Linked DNA regions of Homo sapiens: region 2 is linked to region 1. The links come from fine-mapping of genetic effects on gene expression. A gene starts in region 1. The other region holds a variant in brackets. All regions are shown on one strand. Distances are from middle to middle.

Region 1 (8,000 bases):
ACAAGTGAATGTAGGGATTGGAGGGGGGAAATAATGGGTGCGGGAGAGCTGCCAGGCGCTGCCTCCCGTTACCTGTCCCCCAAGAGGGCTTCTTTCGGCTCCAAGAGGGAGGCGCCTGGGCCCGGGCCCACTTCTCGGGCATCTCCTTGGGGACCGTCATGATCCCGGTTTGAGTGGGGGAGGGCAGACCGTCTATATGTCCTTGGCCTTAGTGGCATCGACGGGGCGGCTCCCCGGGGAGGTGCAGGAGCCGCAGCCGCTCAGAGGGGAGCCCCAGCCGTCGGGCGCGCGCCCCACCCGCAGCCCAGGCCATCCTCCCGGCCGCCGGCGCTCGGGGACACCGCGAGCTCAGCTGCGCCGCCGCCGCCGCCCCCCATGCCCCCCGGCGGATGCCAGCGTGCGCTGAGTGGCCCCGGACACGCCGAGCACGCCCAGGGTTCCGCCCCCGCCCGCTCCCCGACTGCAGGAGCCGCAGCCTGCCAGCGCGCCGCGTAGGCGAAAGCTCGCGCGCGAGCCCCGCCTCCCCTCCCACCCCCGGGCCGGGCCAATGCGGGTGAGCGGACTGCCGGCGTTGTCGGGGGCAACCGCTTTCACACACACACACCCCCGCCCGCGGAAAAACCAGGAGAACCGGTAGATGGAAAAACGAGGGGAGCAGGGAAGGGGTGAGAGGACCAAGCAGAGATGAGAACACAGCTCCCTAGGCCAGAAAGCAGGAGCTGCAGGTGCCCGAAGATAAGACTGCAGGTGTTTCGGGGCGTGGGGCTGGTGCTCTGCGCTGTCCTGGCAGATAACCCAGCTTTGGGATCAAGCGGAAGAATTCGGTTTCCTAGGCTGCCCCCAAGCTGGGTAGGGGCTGCTGTAAGCTACCCTCCCTCAGACCCATACCAGTTGTCCCTTTTCCTTTTGCTCCCTGAGCCATAACAACACCCACTCTTGATGGTTCCCGGGATCTCCCCTCCTTGCCTGTCTTACCTGGGGGGCGCTTTTTTGCACACACTGCCATCTCACCCAGCAAGATCCCAGCAATCCCATGGGAGACCCTGCAAGAAGTGACAGACGAATGAGGTCAGGAAGCTGAGGATAACCCTTCCCTCCCCTCATGAGACCTCTTTTGAAGACCCTCTTCTCCAGCTCTGACCCTGCCCCTCCCCCAGCCTCCTTCTCCCAGTCTCTCCTCTTACTGCCATGATGGGTTCCTGGGAAAGAGGGGACTTCCCCACCACCTCCCATCATGCCCCTGCCTTGGGTGACATGGGGGGCTGAGACTTTACAGAAGCCCATGCCTGTAGGGAAAGGAGAAGAGGCCAGATATTGAAAAAAGGGGAACAGCTCTCAAGGTATCCATCCCAGGGACAATGGAGGCTCTCATGTGTTCTGGCGGCAATGAGTAGTGCTTGTGCTTACTAGAAAGCAGTTTCCCCAAAGGGTGGGGTGGAGGGAACATGAGCCAGGAAACACCTGGCAGGGCATCAGGAAACAGGGTGGGCAGGCTCCACCCTTCTCGAAAGGCTTATAAGTTCCCTGCCATCCCCACCCCCCATTACTAGGGCTTCCATTATCACCTCCTCCAGGGGAGCTCACATTAGAGGCATGGCCCTCACTTTCTGCACAGACAGTCCCTAAACAGCTTCCCCTCAGCCTGGGTCAGCCACCCTTCTGGGCTGGCAGAGGGGTCTTCCCAACCCTGGTGGGGAGTTTGCCCCTCCCTCCCTCCCACCCCAAGCCTAGTCCAGTCAGTATGGCACAGGGTGCAGGCTTAGGGAGCACCAGTGAGACAAGCCTCTGCCTGCTTCCGCCTTCCCATGTCCTTTCTCCTAAAAGGTTCAAGGCCTGGCCTTACAAGGCAGAGCCTCATCCTTACTCCCCAGCCTGGCCCAAAGGAAACTGCCAGTCAGTCACCTCCTCTTTCCTTGTCTGGGTGGAAGGCCTTTCACCTCCTCATCCTCTTTGGTTCCCTCTGCCTTTAGCCTACCAGGCACACCCCACCAACCTGTCAGCCCCAAGAGATACTAATTGCCTGTCTGGCTAAGCTCTATAATTACAGATTCTGGCCACAACCCAGTCACCCACACCAGTTCTCCCTTCGCTAGCTCAGATCCCGCCCTTACACCAAGTCAGGCAATCCTGAAAGCCAGAAGTCCTTTTCATCCCTGACCTTCTCCAACTATGGCAGTCCAGGGTGCCTGGCTCAGGAAGAAAAACCTCATCCATATTTTAGAGATGCCAAGCCCTCCTCCAGGGCCCCCAGCCAGGGTCTCCACCCAGTCTGAGTATGAGTCACGGGAGGGTGGGGAGCACAGGGAGAGGTTAAAGGATGCAAGAGTGGGCATCACAAGTTCTACAGGCAGCCCCGCCCTTGGGGAGGAAGGGATCAAGAAACACTATCAGCCTAAACATCTGAGTTTGAGTCCCATGAAAGAGTTAATGTAGGAGCTGCACACGCCATCAGGAGTCAGGAGTCTGGATATGGACCAGGAAAGTTGTTCTACCTCTGAGACCCTGGGGAGACTGGAAGCAGGCTTGGCCCCAGACCTCATCCCCTCTGGGGGGGCCATCATTCCAAGGGGAAGAGAGGAGAGACCTGGGAACTGGGATCCCCTCTCACTTTTCCTTCTTAGTCTCACACAGCCTGGGTTTTCTGAGCAGGTCAGGCCCATCAGCCACGTTGCCCTGCCCCGTCACCCAGCCCCAGCCCCCTCTCGGCCACATTTGGGATAAAAATAGCCAGCCCCGGCAAGCAGGCAATGCTCCATGGAGGAAAACAGCTCCTCCTATAGGTCCGGTCCCTGCTCCCTTACAAGCAAGAGCCCCAAAGGCTGGCCACTTCTTTCAGAGGAGGATGGCAGGTCAGGGAAACAGGAGGAAATGGAACTCGAGACCTCCAGCTCACTGGCCACCAACACGAGCTCGGGCCACCTTCCCTCACCAAGGACAGAACTCAGGGCTCCCGGCACAGCTATCATCTCCCAGAGCTACTGCCCCTTCCTGACACCCTCAGTTTTCCTCAGGCATAGACCTCCACCTTACTGAGACAAAGCCTACCAGCCCAAACTCCCTTCTCCAGGCACCAAACCCTCGGGTCCCGGTTACTCCTCTCGCCCAACAACTCTCTGGGCGGGTCTCCCCTGGCCAAGGCTGCACGAGCTTCTCCTTGGCACTCGCGCCGCTCTCCTGCTCTCCACGCGCCCCTTCGGCACCCCATCCTCCCATCCTGTACGCAGACCCCCGCTCTGCCCCGTCCCCGGGAACCCGACAGCCCCTCGTCTCCAGTCGGCCGCCATCCCCGCCCCGTCTGGCCGCAGCTCCCAAATCTTGGCCCCCGGTGCTCCCCAGTCTACACCCGCTCCCCGGCCCCTCCAGCCCCGCGGCTGCGGCCGCATCTCCCTCTGCCCTCCTGGCCCCGCGCTCCCGGGCGCCCCCGCTTCGCCTCGCCTCGCCTCACCTCAGCGCTCAGCGCTCGGCGCCCGCCCCGGCGGCCCCGTACTGCCCATGCCGGGGGCTGGGGCGGGGGGCGCTCGGCTCGGCTCCCCACGGGCTCCCGCCCCCCCAGCTGCGGCCCCGCTCCCCCGGGGCCTCGGCCCGCTACTTTGTGTCAGTTTCGGCCACGGCGGGGCGGAAGTGACGGAGCCGGCGGCGGGGGCCGGGGGGCGGGAGGGGGTTTTGGGGAGGGGAGAAGGAGCGGGGAGGAGGGAGCAGCCATCTTTGTGCGGGGCAGTGGGAGGGTCTTAGCCCTTCCGAGCCTCGGCGTGGCTGGGCTGGGATGCCCCCACACGTACGTCCATCCGCATCTTAAAAGAAAAAACAATTCGGGAGGCTAGATCGCTCTGAGGGGGTATTTTTAATTCGGAAGAAGGGAATAGAGGAACACTGCCTTCTCTGCAAAACGAGCATCCTCTGCAGGGAGCGGCAGGAGAGCTGTAGAAGTGGTGAATAACCAGAATTTTCCCTGGCGCCAGGTTGCCCTCAGCCCGACTCTCGCTCCTCGGAGCCGCCCGCCCTCCGTTCCTTCACCCTCCCTCCTCGCCCTGGCTCATTTCACTGTATCTCAACTCTCCTTGAATGAACGACACAGCACCGAGATGTCTAGGAACGGTGCCTCAGTTTCACAGCCTTGCTCTCTGTCTCTGTGCCCCGCCGCCCTCCTTCCCTCCGCCCCCACCACGCCCCCTGGGTGGAGGCGGCTTCCCCACCCCTAACTACCCTCTTGGGGAGGCATCCCCGAGAGGGTGAAGGTGGGAGGCGCCGAGGCGATGAGAGCTAGGAGTCGGCAGTCGGGACAGGCTATGGAGGGCAGTCCCCAGGGTTGTGCCCTACACTGGATGGTGGCCCCCTCCACCCTGCAGATGCCCGCAGCCGTCCCCATCCAGCATCCAGGTGCGCACCCTCTAGCGGTTACCTCGAGCAACTACATTCCGAGAGGCCCTGAGGGTCAGAAAACCGCTTTGCGGGAGGAGGGGATGAGAAGCCTGAGTCCTGGTACCTTATCCTCCTCCACTTCTCCCTGTCCAGGATCCTTCTTAGTTTAGGAGGAAGGGATGCCAAACAGATAAACAGAGAAGCCTCCCAGGTTCTGGCACATTAACAAAGAGGAAGAATGACTGTTGTTCCCAGGCGGGGTCAGTGGCTGGCTCCAGGGTCCATGAGTGAAGTGAGGGTTGTCCTAATCATAGCTTACACTCCAGCATCTGAGCTGAGGCAGGAGTTTCCAACTCTGAGGCTTTGTGTTGAGCAGACACCAGATCCTGAGCTGGCTCTGGGCCCTCAGGGTGGTGCAGAGCCACCAACAGCTGGTAAGTGGCTGTGCCAACGGTGGCCCCCACCAGAGGGGCCACCACAGGCACCCACCACCAGCCATTACCAGCACTGCAAAAGAAGGACAGTGGGAAGGTATCAGGAGTGACTCCCTTAGCCTTCCCCTCTCCAAGGACGGGGGGCAGTAACAAGAGAGTGCCCTAAAGTTGTTCCCAGGGTGGTAGACACCAGGAAGAGGATTGCCTTGTCACCAAAGCATAGTATTTAGAAGAGGGAACCCCAGGAGAGCTTGGTCCAGCCTCTTGCCTTAGGGAATTATCTGAATATATTAATTTTGCTGATGAAGTCACTAATGTGCATGGAAGTAATGTGGCATGCCTAAGAACACAACCTCTAAATCTTACTGTTTCAGTGAAAAGTTGGGAGGGAAGCAAGGGAGAAAGGGGGAGAATATGACTTGGAGAAAGAACACTGTCCTAAGAAGCCAAGAGAGCTATTTTAAAGGCAGAGTGCTGTGGACCCAGGGACAGAGCCCTTAGCAGAGGAAGGTGAGTGGAGGCCAGCACCAGGAGAGTCTGTCTCCCACCTGAAGACTTCAGGACCCCAGCCAGCCACGTAGGTGAAGAGACGTGGGCCCAGGTCCCGGGCAGGGTTGAGTGGAATCCCGCAGTTGGCACCCATGGATAACCCGAGGGCCAGGATCAGCATCCCCACCACCACAGGCTCCAGACCCGCAGGGACTCCCTTGTTCCGTCTGTCCAGGATGGCCAAGAGCCCCACAATCAGCATCCCAGTGCCCAGAACCTTGGAGTCAACAGAGGCAGAGGGTTCCCTGTCAGCTGCCAGGTGCTCCATCTGCCCTCTCTCATCCAAATATTCCATGTCATCTGGCTTTGTGCAACACAGGCAGTTGGGGATGGTGGGGAGTGCCAAGATAGACCCAACCCACACTCCACCCAGAGACTGAACAATAGGCTGGGGTGCCGAGGAACAGGACCAAAGTAGTGTCCCCAGGTCTCCCCCTCACACTTACCTGATCCAGGAAGCCATTGTTCAGGGACAGATAGGGGGCAGGATAGGTGGCAAAAATGGAGGCTGTCTCCTTGGGGCCAGTCACTGTCAGGTTCCCACCTGTATAGTTCTGTAGGGCATCTGTGGAGGAAGGGAACACCCAGGATTTCCCTCTTTGCTCATTCATCCAAAACCATTCTGAGGCACCCCTGCCCACCCACAGGTGCTCTCAAGGCACAGCTCCCTCTGTTCCCTCTGTCACCATGGTAGAGAACATAGGTGGCTCCCGAAGCACAGAAAGCAGACAGCAACTGCACCAAGATGTAAATGGGGAGCTTGACCCAGGGGAGGCGTCCAACGATGCACATGGCCAGGGAGAAGGCTGGATTCAGGTGGGCCCCTTCAAGTATCAAGGAAAGAAAAAGAGCATCTATTAAGTGTCACTGCCAGGCATTGTCACCAGACAACACTACTGCTCCTTCCTATAGCTCTTAAGGCAGATAGTGTAATTCTCATCACACAGCTTAGGAAATTGAGGCTCCAGATGTTACAGATGTTAAGTGACTTAGCAAAGTCACACTGTGGGCCAGGCACAGTGGCTCACGCCTGTAATCCCAGCACTTTGGGAGGCCGAGGCAGTGGATCACTTGAGGTCAGGAATTCCAGACCAGCCTGGCCAACATGGTGAAACCCCGTTTCCACTAAAAACACAAATATTAGCCAGGCGTGGTAGCAGGTGCCTGTAAAATCAGCTATTCGGGATGCTGAGGCAGGAGAATCGCGTGAACCCAGGGGCAGAGGTTGCAGTGAACAGACATCACACCACTGCTCTCCAGCCTGGGCAACAGAGTGAAACTCCATCTCAAAAAAAAAGAAAAAAAAAAAAAAAAAAGAAGAAGACACTGTGAATCCAAAGTTGGAACCTAGGTCTGTCTGCTTTTTCCACAGCAACACACTATGTCTCAAGGCTCCACCCAAGCACACCGATGCAGTGTGTATCTGGGGTACAAACAGGAGAGGTCCTGAGTGGAGATGAGCCCCCAGAGGACTTCAGGTGGGGGATACAAGAGGATAGCAGCTGCCCTTCGTGCCCTGCCATTGATTTCTGTCTAGGTGAGCCAAGCATTAGTGTGAGGAAGCAGGATGGAGAGATACAGAAAGAGGAGGGGCTGGTGGGGCCAAAGGCTTATTTCAGTCTGGGACACTGTTCAAGGGGATAATGTCCACGAGTCACAGAAGGATTTGCGTTTCCACCATCACCAGACAGACAAACTGGCATGCACATCCCACGTGCTCTGATGACCAGACCCCACCCTCCTCACCTGAGACGTTACCACCCACGTAGATGGCTATCGTAACGGCCAGAGAGCCAGCCAGAAACATGGTGAAGAAGTTGCCTTTGGTTTCTCCACTGGTGACAGCCTGGGCCACAGCTCCTTGGGTGAGGAGCTGCTGAGAAGAGGAGAGATGAGGAACAGGGAGCCCAGGAGACCAACAGGGAGAAAGGTTGGGAAGGCCAGGGGAGCAGCCAAGGAGATGAATGAGCACAGAAGACAAGCAAGGGAAGGAGAAAAGCAGAAGGAGGGAAGGGAAAAGAAATGGGGAAAGTGGAGGAAGAAGAAAGGGAAAGAATGTGGGAAAAAAGAAAAGAATTTACCCAACTCATAGGCATTTGAGGGTACAAACCCATGGCAGGGCTCAGCTTTAAAAAGTCTTATCTAAGATTCTTTCTATGGAAGAGTTCCATCAAAGCCAATTTTAAAAGCCTATGTGAAAAATAATTATTCTTGCTGCACTTTATACAATCATCAGGCCAAGTATAATAAAGCACATTGGTCTTACCATGAAAATGGTCTTTCATAAAAATGGGAAACTGAAGAGAGAAAAATTATGTTTCAAGAACTATGATACACTTGTTATTAAAGAAAGAATAAAAATGACAAGAATAAAAATGATGAAGTAGGAGAGGAAAGGAGATTAGGAGAGACGAGAGGATAAAAACGAAAAGTGATAGGGAGTTGAGAGGAAGGGGGACACCAAGAGAAAGAGATAAGGACAACAGAAGGAGCCAGGAACTTTTGCCCAACCCCCTTCTTTCCTTCCCGCAGTGATCCTACCTACCATGAGTACAAACACACCCAGAAACTCTGCCAGGCACTGCCGGGCCAGGAGGCTGCGTATCCGGAGGTGGCCCATGATTTCAGCCGGGGCCTGAGTGAAGACCATGGTGGAAA
Region 2 (11,729 bases), 35 kb before region 1:
TGGGTTGTACACTTTGAAATGGTTACAATGGTAAATTTTATGTTCTCTATTTTACCACAATTTTAAAAATATTGAGGACTCCAACGAGCCTTTGTTTATGTGAGTTATGTCTAAGAATATTTACCATATTAGAAATTAAAAGTGTCCAGGCACAGGCCAGGACTGGTGGCTCACATCTGTAATCCCAGCACTTTGGGAGGTCAAGGTGATCAGGAGTTCGAGACCAGCCTGGCCAACATGGTGAAACCTTGTCTCTACGAGAAATGCAAAAATTAGCCCGATGTGGTAACGTGCGCCTGTAGAACCAGCTACTCAGGAGGCTAAAGTGGGAGAATCACTTGAGCCTGGGAAGTGGAGGTTGCAGTGAGCCAAGATCTCACCACTGCACTCCAGCCTGGGTGACAGAGACTCTGTCTCAAAAAAAAAAAAAAAAATTGTGTGGGCACAGTGGCACACGCCTATAATCCCAGCACTTTGGATGGCCGAGGAGGGCAGATCACTTGAGGCCGGGGGTTCAAGACTAGCCTGGCCAACATGGTGAAACCCTATCTCCACTAAAAGTACAAAAATTGGCTGGGTGTGGTGGTACACACCTGTAGTCACAACTACTTGGGGGGCTGAGTCAAGAGAATCACTTGAATCTGGGAAACGGAGGTTGCAATGAGCTGAGATTGCACCACTGCACTCCAACCTGGGCGACAGAGTGAGATTCTGTCTCAAAAATCAAAACAAAACAAAAAGATATTAAAATTGAGAATTTAAAATATTAATTCATTAATATTTTTATGAAATCTGAAATAATAACAATTAAACCACTACAAATGTATATTTTTAAATTTTGTCGTTTTTGGTGTTTTTTTCTTTTTTTGAGACAGAGTCTCACTCTGTCACCCAGGCTGGAGTGCCGTGGTGTGATCTCGGCTCACTGCAACCTCTGACTCCTGGGTTCAAACAATTCTCCTGCCTCAGCTGCCTCAGCCTCCCGAGTAGCTGGAATTACAGGTGCATGCCACCATGCCTGGCTAGTTTTTTAGTAGAGACAGGGTTTTGCCATGTTGGCCAGGCTGCTCTTGAACTCCCAGCCTCAGATGATCTGCCTCCCTCGGCCTCTCAAAATGCTGGGATTACAGGCATGAGCCACTGTGCCCCGCCAAATTTTTGTTTAAAATAAAGAGAAATAAGAGAGACATTGTTTTACAGTTTTTGCTTTTACTTTAATGTCTGACTTATAAAAGACAATATGAATCTAATTTTGGCTTCTATATTCAATCTGTTCCTATATGATGTTTTAGTTGAATTATACGAAGAAAGTTTGGCCCTACATAGATATGTAGTTGGAAAATGGAGAATTTTAATAGCCTTTTCAGATAATTGTGGATTTTTTTTTATGTAAAACTCAACAAGTGGTAGTTTATTTCATTTTATTTATTTTTAACAAAGGTCTCACTCTATCTTCCAGGCTGGAGTGCAGTTGTATGATCATGGTTCGCTGTAGCCTCCATCTCCTGGACTCACGTGTTCTGCCTGCCTTAGCCTCCAAGTAGCAAAGACTCCAGGTATACACCACCACACCCAACTAATTTTTTTTTTTTCGAGACAGGGTCTCTTTTGCCCAGGCTGAAGTGCAATGGCTGATCTTGGCTCACTGCAAACTCTGCCTCCTAGGCTCAAGCAATCCTCCTGCCTCAGCACCCCCCAAGTATTAATAACTGGGAATACTGGTGTGCACCACTACACCCAGCTAATTTTTGTATGAGACCGGCTTTTGTCGTGTTGCCCAGGCTGGCCTCAAACTCCTAGGCTCAAGAGATCTGCCTGCCTTGGCCTTTCATAGTACTAGGATTACAGGCATAAGCCACCTCCCCTGGCCTAATTGTTTTATTTTTTTTAGCAACAGTGCTCTCACTTTGTTGCCCACTCTGGTCTCGAACTCTTGGCCTCAAGCAATCCACCCACCTCGGACTCCCAAAGTGCTAGGATTACAGGCATGAGCTCCTGCACCTGGCCAACAAGTGGTATTTCCTTAAGGACTAGTTGCAATATGGAATCTGAAACCAAATTTCGAATTCATAAAGTTTTCTTTTTTTTTTTTTTTTTTTGAGACGGAGTCTCCTCTGTCACCCAGGCTGGAGTCCAGTGGCGTGATCTTGGCTCACTGCAACCTCCGCCTCCTGGGTTCAAGTGATTCTCCTGCTTCAGCCTCCTGAGTAGCTGGGATTACAGGTGCACGTCACCACACCCAGCTAATCTTTAAATTTTTCTTAGTAGAGACGGTTTCACCATATTGGCCAGGCTGGTCTCAAACTCCTGACCTCATGATCCACCCACCTTGGCCTCCCAAACTGCTGGGATTACAGGTGTGAGCCACCACACCCAGCTAAGTTTTCATATTTTTTTGTTCATTAAAATCCATTGTTCTATCTTGCACGTTGTTTTTTTTTTTTTTACTATACAAAATTTTGTAACATCATGCATTGGTTATTTGGAAAATACTGGGTCACTAAGTTATAAAGATTATTGAGATAATTCATCATACAATGTCAAAAAAATCACATTTGTTAATACCACCATTCTCATCAAAAGTCTTTTACATACTGGTAGCCAAGTAATAATGGTGAATACAGTTCAAGTAAATGTGCTCAACAGTCTGAGTCTCGTGGAATTAATTTTCATTCTAGTGGTTTTGCGTCAGTAGCCTGACGTCATGAGGTCACCTACTGCGGAACTGAAATGATCCTAGGAATTCTGAGTCTCCGGTCCTTTGTTTCATTCTTTCCTCTACGTTCCTAAGGTTATCTTTCTAGGATGTTTCTTCCAGAAGACCCTAATGGGGTCTGTAGCATACAGCAAGGGCCCTGAGGCTTGTGTGAGAGGACAGTGAAAACTATCAGTTGATGACATGCAGAATGATTTAGATTTGTAAACCCAAAGTATCTGAGACAGGCCTCAACCAATTTAGGACGTTTATTTTGCTGGCCGGGTGCGGTGGCTCACGCCTGTAATCCCAGCACTTTGGGAGGCCAAGGCGGGTGGATCATGAGGTCAGGAGATCGAGACCACCTTGGCTAACATGGTGAAACCCCGTCTCTACTAAAAATACAAAAGATAAGCTGGGTGTGGTGGTGGGCGCCTGTAGTCCCAGCTACTTGGGAGGCTGAGGCAGGAGAATGGCGTGAACCCAGGAGGTGGAGGTTGCAGTGAGCTGAGATTGCGCCACTGCACTCCAGCCTGGGCGACAGAGCAAGACTCTGTCTCAAAAAAAAAAAAAAAAAAAAGAAAGTTTATTTTGCCAAGGTTAAGGACACACCCATGACACAGCCTCCAGAGGTCCTGAGGACAAGGTGGTCCCAAGGTGGTCGGGGTATAGCCTTTTACACATTTTAGGGAGCCACGAGACATCAATCAATATGTGCAAGATGTACATTGGTTCTGTCTGGTGAAGAGGGACAAATCGAAGTGGGGGAGCGCTTCCAGGTCATAGGTAGATAAGACAAAAAAGGTTGTATTCTTTTCAGTCCTTGATCAGCCTTTCACTGAATACACAATTTATTCTGGCTTAGTGAATCTGCATTTTTACATTAACAATAGGGCAGAGGAAGCAATAAGATAAGCATTTGTCTCAAGTCAGCAGAGGGATGACTTTCTGTCCTGTACCTGTGAAAATAAGCTAACGGTTTACATTGCCAGGGTGAAATTCAACAGAACTATTTTAGGATAAAGATTTTGAGGCCCGCAAGGAATTTCCTTGTGGACAAATTGTGAGGGAGGTATGTAGCTCTTTTATCTTTGTAGCTATCTCATTTAGCAATAAAATGGGAGGCAGTTCTGCCTGATGCAATTCCCAGCTTGACTTTTCCCTTGGCTTAGTGATTTTGGGGTCCTGAGATTTATCTTCCTTTCACAGATTGATGGGTCACAGTGTCTGAAAACATCAGAAGGTCTTTTTATTTTTCATTTTTTGAGACAGGGTCTTGCTCTGTCACCAGGCTGAAGTGCAGCGGCGCAATCACTGCAACCTTGACCTCCTGGGTTCAAGCGATCCTCCCAACTCAGCCCCCACCCCCGGCCCTGCACCCTCCAGTAGCTGGGACTGGAGGCTAATCTTTGTATTTTTTCCAGAGACGGGGTCTCACCACGTTGTCCAGGCTGGTCTTGAACTCCTGGGTTCAAGTGATCCTCCCGCCTCAGGCTCCCAAAATGCTGGGATTACAGGGATGAGCCACCATGACTGGCCAGAATGTCTTTTTATAAAAACATTTATTAGTAGTTATCATTCCATTTAGGTGAGTACAGTTGTTTATACTCTCCTTCTGAAATATTTAGTGGAAGTAAAGTAGCTTATCTGACCAGTAAAGCCAGCAAAGGAAATTTAGAAAGCTCAGATTAATTAAACTTTGCAAAAATAAAGTCTTGGATAAACTAATATTATGCAAACAATACTTTCCACATGGTAATAAAATTAGAAGAAGGTAAAAAGCAAAGCTGTCTTTTTTCTTCTTCTTCTTCTCTTTTTTTTCTTTTTTTCTGTCTTTTTTTGAGATGGAGTTGTTTTGCTCATGTCGCCCAGGCTGGAGTGCAGTGGCGCGACCTCAGCTCACTGCAACCTCTGCCTCCCAGGTTCAAGCAATTCTCCTGCCTCAACCTCTCAAGTAGCTGGGACCACAGATGCGCACCACCATGCCCAGCTCAAGACCTGTCCTCTAGGATGAACTAAAGCTATCCAATCAGTCTGTATTAGTCAACTCCAGCTGCTGTAACAAAATACTGGCCAGGCACAGTGGCTCATACCTGTAATCCCAACACTTTGGGAGGCCAAAGCAGGCAGATCACTTGAGTTCAGGAATTTGAGACAAGACTGGACAACATGGCAAGACCCTGTCTCTACAAAAATTATCTAGGCATGGTGGTGCATGCCTGTAGTTCCAGCTACTCAGGAGGCGGATGCAGGAGGATGGTTTGAGCCCCAGAAGCAGAGATTGCAGTCAGCTGAGACTATGCCACTATACTCCAGCCTGGGTGATAGAGTGATACTGTCTCAAAATCAAAACAAAATAAACAAACAAAAACAAATACAGTCACATAGGGGTTATGATTTCAACATATGAATTGGGGGGGATACAATTTATTTCATAGCACAGCCTTATTTATCTAAAGATTTATTTTGACACACCTAGCTTACTTGAACTTTGATGCTTGTAGCATTCTTCTGTACCTATACATCAAATATTAAAAACCAAATCAAAATTTTGGTATCAAAAAGTTTTCAGCCCAGCATGTAGTACAAACCTGTAATCCCACCTACTTAGGAGGATGAGGTGGGAGGATTGCTTGAGGCCAGGAGTTGGAGAACAGACTGGGCAACATAGCAAGACCCCATCCTGAAAAAAAAACAACTTTTTAAATTAGAAGAATAAGAATTAAGCTCTTCTGTCATATAATAGGTTTCCTCATTTATGAATACATACCCTGCCTTTGATTCCCTTGCCTGTCATTGGCCACTGGCCCAGTGGAGACTTAGCACCATGATATGAGATGATACTTCAGACTTCTTGATAAATCATGCTAGAATTCCACGCAGTTCAAGGGTCTACATCCCACTACATCCCTCCCTTATGCTATTACCAGAAAGGGGTCCCAATCCGGACCCCAGCAGAGGGTTCTTAGATCTCGAGAAAGAAAGATTTTGAGGCAAATCAATAGAGTAAAGTGAAAGCAAGTTTATTAAGAAAGTAAAGGAATAGGCCAGGCACCATGGCTCATGCCTGTTATCCCAGCACTTTGGGAGGCTGAGGCAGGCTGATCATTCGAGCTCAGGAGCTTGAGACCAGCCTGGGCAACATGGCGAAACCCTGACTCTAGTAAAAATACAAAAATTACCCAGGTATAATGGTTCATTCCTGTAATCCCATTTACTTGGGAGGCTGACGCACGAGAATCGCTTGAACCCAGAGGTTGCAGTAAAGGGTTGCAGTGAGATGACACCACTGCACTCCAGCCTGGGTGACAGAGTGAGACTCTGTTTCAAAAAAAAAAAAAGAAAGTAAAAGAATAAAAGAATGGCTATTCCATAGGTAGAGCAGTGGCATGGGCTGCTCAACTGATAATATGGTTTGGCTGTGTCCCCACCCAAATCTCATCTTGTAGTTCCCATAATCTCCACTTGTTATGGGAGGGACCTGGTGGGAGGTAATTGATCATGGAGGCCGTTTCCCCTATTCTATTCTCATGATAGTAAGTACTCACAAGATCTGATGGTTTTATAAGGGGCTTCCCCCTTCACTGGGCTCTCATTCTTGCCCTGGCTGCCACCATGTGAAGAAGGACATGTTTGCTTTCCCATCTGCAATGATTGCAAGTTTCCTGAGGCCTCCCCAGCCATGCTGAACTGTGGGTCAATTAAACCTCTTTCCTTTATAAATTACCCAGTCCTGGGTATGTCTTTATTAGCAACATGAGAACAGACTAATCAAGTAACAATTGATTATACTTATAGTTACTTCTTGGTTATGTGCTAAACAGGGGGTGGATTATTCATGAGTTTTCCAGGAAAGGGTGGGCAATTCCTGGAACTGAGGGGAGTGTTCCTCCCCTTTTTTTACCATATAGGGTAACTTCCAGACACTGCCATGGCATTTGTAAACTGTCATGGCGCAGGTGGGAATGTCTTTTAGCATGCTAATAATTAGCACATAATGAGCAGTGAGGACAACCGGAGATCACTTGTGTCACCATCTTGGTTTTGGTGGCTTTTGGCTGGCTTCTTTACTGCATCCTATTTTATCAGCAAGGTCTTTGTGACCTGTATCTTGTGCTGACCTCCTAGCTCATCCTATAACTAAGAATGTCTGATCTCCTGGAAATGCAGCCCAGTAGGTCTCAGCCTTATGTTACCCAGACCCTATTCAAGATGGAGTTGCTCTGGTTCAAATGCCTCTGACAATACCACCCAAACTCAGACAAGAAAGGCTACTGATGCAGGCTGATCTAGGGAGCTCCCCTCACCACCACCACCATGAGCCCTCTTCTGGCCATACCCCTCCCATAAAATGATGAGTCAAAGGGGCCGACTGGACTTGCCCAGCTGGAGCCCACACTGCCTCCTTCTAGACCAGCACACTCAAATTGTGGCCCTTGAACTGCTGCCATTCAACAGATGGCTTGTTACTGGACCACAATGAGCCAAGTATAGAAATGAAAAGCAGCAGAGGCGAGGCGCTGTGGCTTACGCCTGTAATCCCAGCACTTTGGGAGGCCGAGGCTGGCGGATCGCCTGAGGTCGGGAGTTTGAGACCAGACTGACCAGTAGAAACCCTGTCTCTATTAAAAATGCAAAATTAGCCAGGCATGGTGGCACATGCCTGTAATCGCAGCTACTCGGGAGGCTGAGGCTGGAGAATTTCTTGAACCCGGGAGGCGGAGGTTGCGGTGAGCTGAGATAATGCCATTGCACTCCAGCCTGGGCAACAAGAGCAAAACTCCATCTCAAAAAAAAAAAAAAGAAAGAAAGAAATGAAAAGCAGCAGGGCACCGGGCGCAGTGGCTCACTCCTGTAATGCCAGAACTTTGGGAGGCTGAGGCATGCAGATCACCTGAGGTTGGGAGTTCAAGACCAGCCTGACCAACATGGAGAAATCTCGTCTCTACTAAAAATACAAAAAACTTAGCCGGCCACGGTGGCCCATGCTTGTAATCCCAGCTATTCAGGAGGCTGAGGCAGGAGAATCATTTGAACCCGGGAGGCAGAGGTTGCAGTGAGCAGAGATCGCACCATTGCTCTCCAGCCTGGGTAACAAGAGTGAAACTCCATCTCAAAAAAAAAGAAAGAAAAGAAAAGCAGCAGGGTGCAGTGGCTCACACCTGTAATCCCAGCACTCTGGGAGGCTGAGGCAGGTGGATCACATGAGATCAGGAGTTCGAGACCAGCCTGGCCAACATGGCAAAACCCCGTCTCTATTAAAAATACAAAAATTAGGCCAGGTGCAGTGGCTCACACCTGTAATCACAGCACTTTGGGAGGCCGAGGCGGGCGGATCACAAAATCAGGAGATCGAGACCATCCTGACTAACACAGTGAAACCCCATCTCTACTAAAAATACAAAAAATTACCCGGGTGTGGTGGTGGGCACCTGTAGTCCCAGCTACTCGGGAGGCTGAGGTAGGAGAATCACTTGAACCCAGGAGGTGGAGGTTGCAGTGAGCCGAGATCGTGCCACTGCACTCCAGCCTGGGTGCAAGAGGGAGACTCCGTCTCAAAAAAAAAAAAAAAAAAGAAAAGAAAAAAAGAAATGAAATGAAATGAAACACCAAGCATTTAGAAACTTTTATCACAATTTTACTTTGCTGCAACATCCAAGCTCCTGATCATTTTCCATTTTCCAGGAATTTGTTTTCATTGTATTTTATAAAAGTATCAGCCAGCCTATCACAGATTGGAAATTTTATTTATTTATTTACTTTTCAAGAAGGGAAAGAAAGGCTGGGCACGGTGGCTCACACCTGTAATCCCAGCACTTTGGGAGGCTGAGGTGGGCAGCTCACTTGAGGTCA[G/C]GAGTTCGAAACCAGCCTGGCAAACATGGCAAAAACCCATCTCTACTAAAAATACAAAAATTAGCCTGGTGTAGTGGCACACATCTGTAATCCCAGCTACCTAGGAGGCTAAGGCAGGAGAATTGCTTGAATCCAGGAGGCAGAGGTTGCAGTGAGCCAAGATAGTGCCACTACACTCCAGCCTGGGTGACAGAGACTCCAACTCAAAAAAAAAAAGGAAAGAAATTTAACAGATTGGAAACTTTAAAAGCTGGTTATTCACCTGAAGCACTATTCTAGACTCTGGCATTTTTCTATCCAAATGGTGTTGAGTTCATTTCCAAGGACTCTGCAGCCTTCTGCTTCAGGTATTCTCTGGCAAACAGACCCATCTGCCAGTGTGCACACCTGGCTCCAGTAAGTGGCCAGGAACAGCTGTTTGCAGGGGTGCAGGTGGAACTTGGACTTGTGTGCTGGGGTGTGCTGCAGAAGCAAGGACCCTCACAGTGTAGAATGGGACAGGGAGGGAAGTGGGAAGAGGAGGGGCAGGCTGGGGGCTGGGAGGCCAAAGGGGCAGGTTCTAAATTTAAACTGACATTCCAAGTTGTTAGGAAGATATATCTGTCAAGGTAGGAAGACACAGCCTACTTTGATCTCATAACTCCTCTGTACTCAGACACGTGGTACGTGGGCCTCCATTTGCTACTTGCCCTGAGTCCCATGAACATTCAGGGCAGGGCTGCCTGAAGCATCCCTAGGTGAACAGCTGAGGAGCCTATTAAACTGCATGCACTTTGTAAAAGCACATAAGCATTTCATCACATGGCTTCACTGGATTTTCAGAGGTGAACCTGAGCCAAAAGTATGAAGAACCGCAGTCCCAGACATTGCAGAAAACATGACAGGGCAAGCTGGCCGGTTCTACTATGCTGGATCCAAAGCCGGGGTCCAAGGTTGTCTCACCCACTTCTTTGTGTGAGGGTAGACCTAGAGAACAGCCAGCATCTGGGGGTACTAAGGATGTCTCCTATAGTCTTCTGGTATCCTTTGTACCTCCACAGAATAGACTTTCTGCGTTTCTAGAAATCTTCCCTTCCCCTGCAGAGGAGAATCAACCCCCAGGCCCAAACTGCTGCATGTTTGCTTCTAGCCCCAGCGGTTCTCCAGGTGTTGTAGAAGCAGCCACTCAGCTATGCAGCTGCCTGCCTTCCGCCCCAGGGGTGTCCCTCCCTGCGTGGGGAGCCCAGGCACAGCAGCAGGCGCCCAGAAGGTTCTGGCAGAAGAGCTGCACCCAAGGTAGTAGGGGACCAGGAAGAGATGAACCCCCAGCTTGTAGCTGTGCACTGCGGGGCTGCGAGTGAAATGAAGAGTGGCCCATGAGGAAGGAGTGGAGAGTGGGACATGGTCCTTTCCTTCCACCTGTCACCCCCTCCTCACCTCCTGCCTGCCCTTGAGTAAACCTGGGCATCCTCTCCTCCTTGCCCCAGTCCTGGAACCCACACATGTCCCTGCTGGGCCCCGGGGGGCCGAAAACACGGCTTAGGCCTCCCTGTCCTATTCCCAGTGGCAGGATGGAAGATTTCTGCAGAATTTCCAGCCCAGGCCAAACTCAGGCTGTGCTAGGCTGGAGGAACTCCCTCTTTCTGTGTCCAAAAACACTCCTTTCTTAAGAGGAGACACTCCATCACGTTTTGGAGAGAGAGAGAGAGGGAAAGTGTGTGTGTGTTTTGTTTTGTTATTTTATTTTTTTAGAAGGAGACTTACTCTGTCGCCCAGGCTGGAGTATAGTGGCGCGATCTCTGCTCACTGCAACCTCTGCCTCCTGGGTTCAAGCCATTCTCCTGCCTCAGCCTCCTGAGTAGCCGAGATTACAGGGGCACGCCAGGACACCCAGCTAATTTTTGTATTTTTAGTAGAGACAGGGTTTCACCATGTTGGCCAGACTGGTCTCGAACTCCTGGCCTCAGGCGATCTGCCCACCTTGACCTCCCAAAGTGCTGGGGTTACAGGCATGAGCCACCATGCCGGGCCACTGTGTGTGTGTGTGTGTGTGTGTGTGTGTGTGTGTGTGTGTGTGTGTGTGTGTTTTGGTTTTTTTAGATGGAGTTTCGCTCTTGTTGCCCAGGCTAGAGTGCAACGGCCTGATCTTAGCTCAATGCAACCTCCGCCTCCCAGGTTCAAGTAATTCTCCTGCCTCAGCCTCCTGAGTAGCTGGGATTACAGGCGTCTGCCCCCATGCCCAGCTAATTTGTTGTATTTTTCGTATAGACAGGGTGAAGCCATTTTAGTCAGGCTGGTCTCGAACTCCTGACCTCAGATGATCCACCCGCCTTGGCCTCCCAAAGTGCTGGGATTACAGGCGTGAGCCACTGCGCCCAGCCCAGTGTGTGTTTTAATAGACTAGTATTGGGAAAGACTTCCCTCTCTCAGCCCGGCAAGATAAGTCTACACCCTCCCCAGGCGGGTGTCCAGCAGGGCAGCTCCCAGCAACTCACTGAGAACTGGAAAGTTTCCAGGAAGGGTTGGGAGGGTCAGACAGGTCATGTTTCTCACTGGGGTCAGGACACAGTCCTTCAAGATAGGACACTGGAGCAGAGATAAGCAGGAGAACTCAGCTCCTTCCTTCAGCCGCAGAGCCCAGTGTTTAGTACATCTCCATCAATGGCTTGCTTCCTCTGAAGTAGAGACTGCAGTGGGTAGTCCTGGTGCTTTATCAGTGAGTCCCTCCCTCATGCTCTGCAGGGTGGCTACAGTGGGAGGCTGCAGCTGCCTACCTAATCTGAGCACTCTGGTCTCTCCAGTTTCTCTTTTGGGGCCAAGGAAAGTGACATTGAACCTTTGTGGCAGAATTTCTTTGTGTTTTGAGTCCCAACCTAGATGGCCCCGCTTTGGGGACAGAAATATGGCTGTCGTGACCCTGCCTGGGTCACAATCACTGGGAAACAGTGGCTCAGGACATTGCAGCTTAATCATTTCATGCTCCACATCAAAGAAGATGAAATATATGATTTACAGTGTGGTGGCCCCAGAGCAGAGGTTGTAGGGTTTTCTCCAGGACATGTGTGTCTGGCTTTGGTGACTGGTGAGATCGCGTGCTGCTCACTGAAATAGAGGATGCGGGAGGAGCAACAGGTGTTGGGAAAAACAATGTTCAGTGTGGGGTATGTTGAATAACAGGTGGTGGTGGGTCGTCCTAGTGGAG

What was found. PIP is the estimated chance that this variant, and not a neighbour inherited with it, causes the effect. A credible set is the group of variants that fine-mapping cannot tell apart.
Region 2: its variant is the best candidate, but not a certain one, in a credible set for the expression of ATP8B2 in monocytes after R848 (Quach 2016, PIP 0.51).

What each region holds. Positions count from the first base shown.
Region 1 is chr1:154,321,148-154,329,147 of GRCh38, reverse strand. ATP8B2 (ATPase phospholipid transporting 8B2) reads right to left here and starts at 3,623. Exons shown (of 28, transcript NM_001370597.1): 1 at 3,446-3,623; 2 at 976-1,043. The coding sequence starts at 1,006. AQP10 (aquaporin 10) reads right to left here. Exons shown (of 6, transcript NM_080429.3): 1 at 7,888-8,000; 2 at 7,089-7,215; 3 at 6,029-6,166; 4 at 5,789-5,907; 5 at 5,342-5,559; 6 at 3,823-4,866. The coding sequence starts at 7,992. The coding sequence ends at 4,668. RefSeq lists silencers at 184-643, 3,203-3,352, 3,403-3,632, 4,063-4,142 and enhancers at 2,283-2,462, 4,583-4,662.
Region 2 is chr1:154,354,104-154,365,832 of GRCh38, reverse strand. No RefSeq gene overlaps it. Among named protein-coding and RNA genes, the nearest start is that of ATP8B2, 34 kb to the right of the region's middle. RefSeq lists a silencer at 3,573-3,773. The variant G/C (reference allele first, on the strand shown) is at 8,549.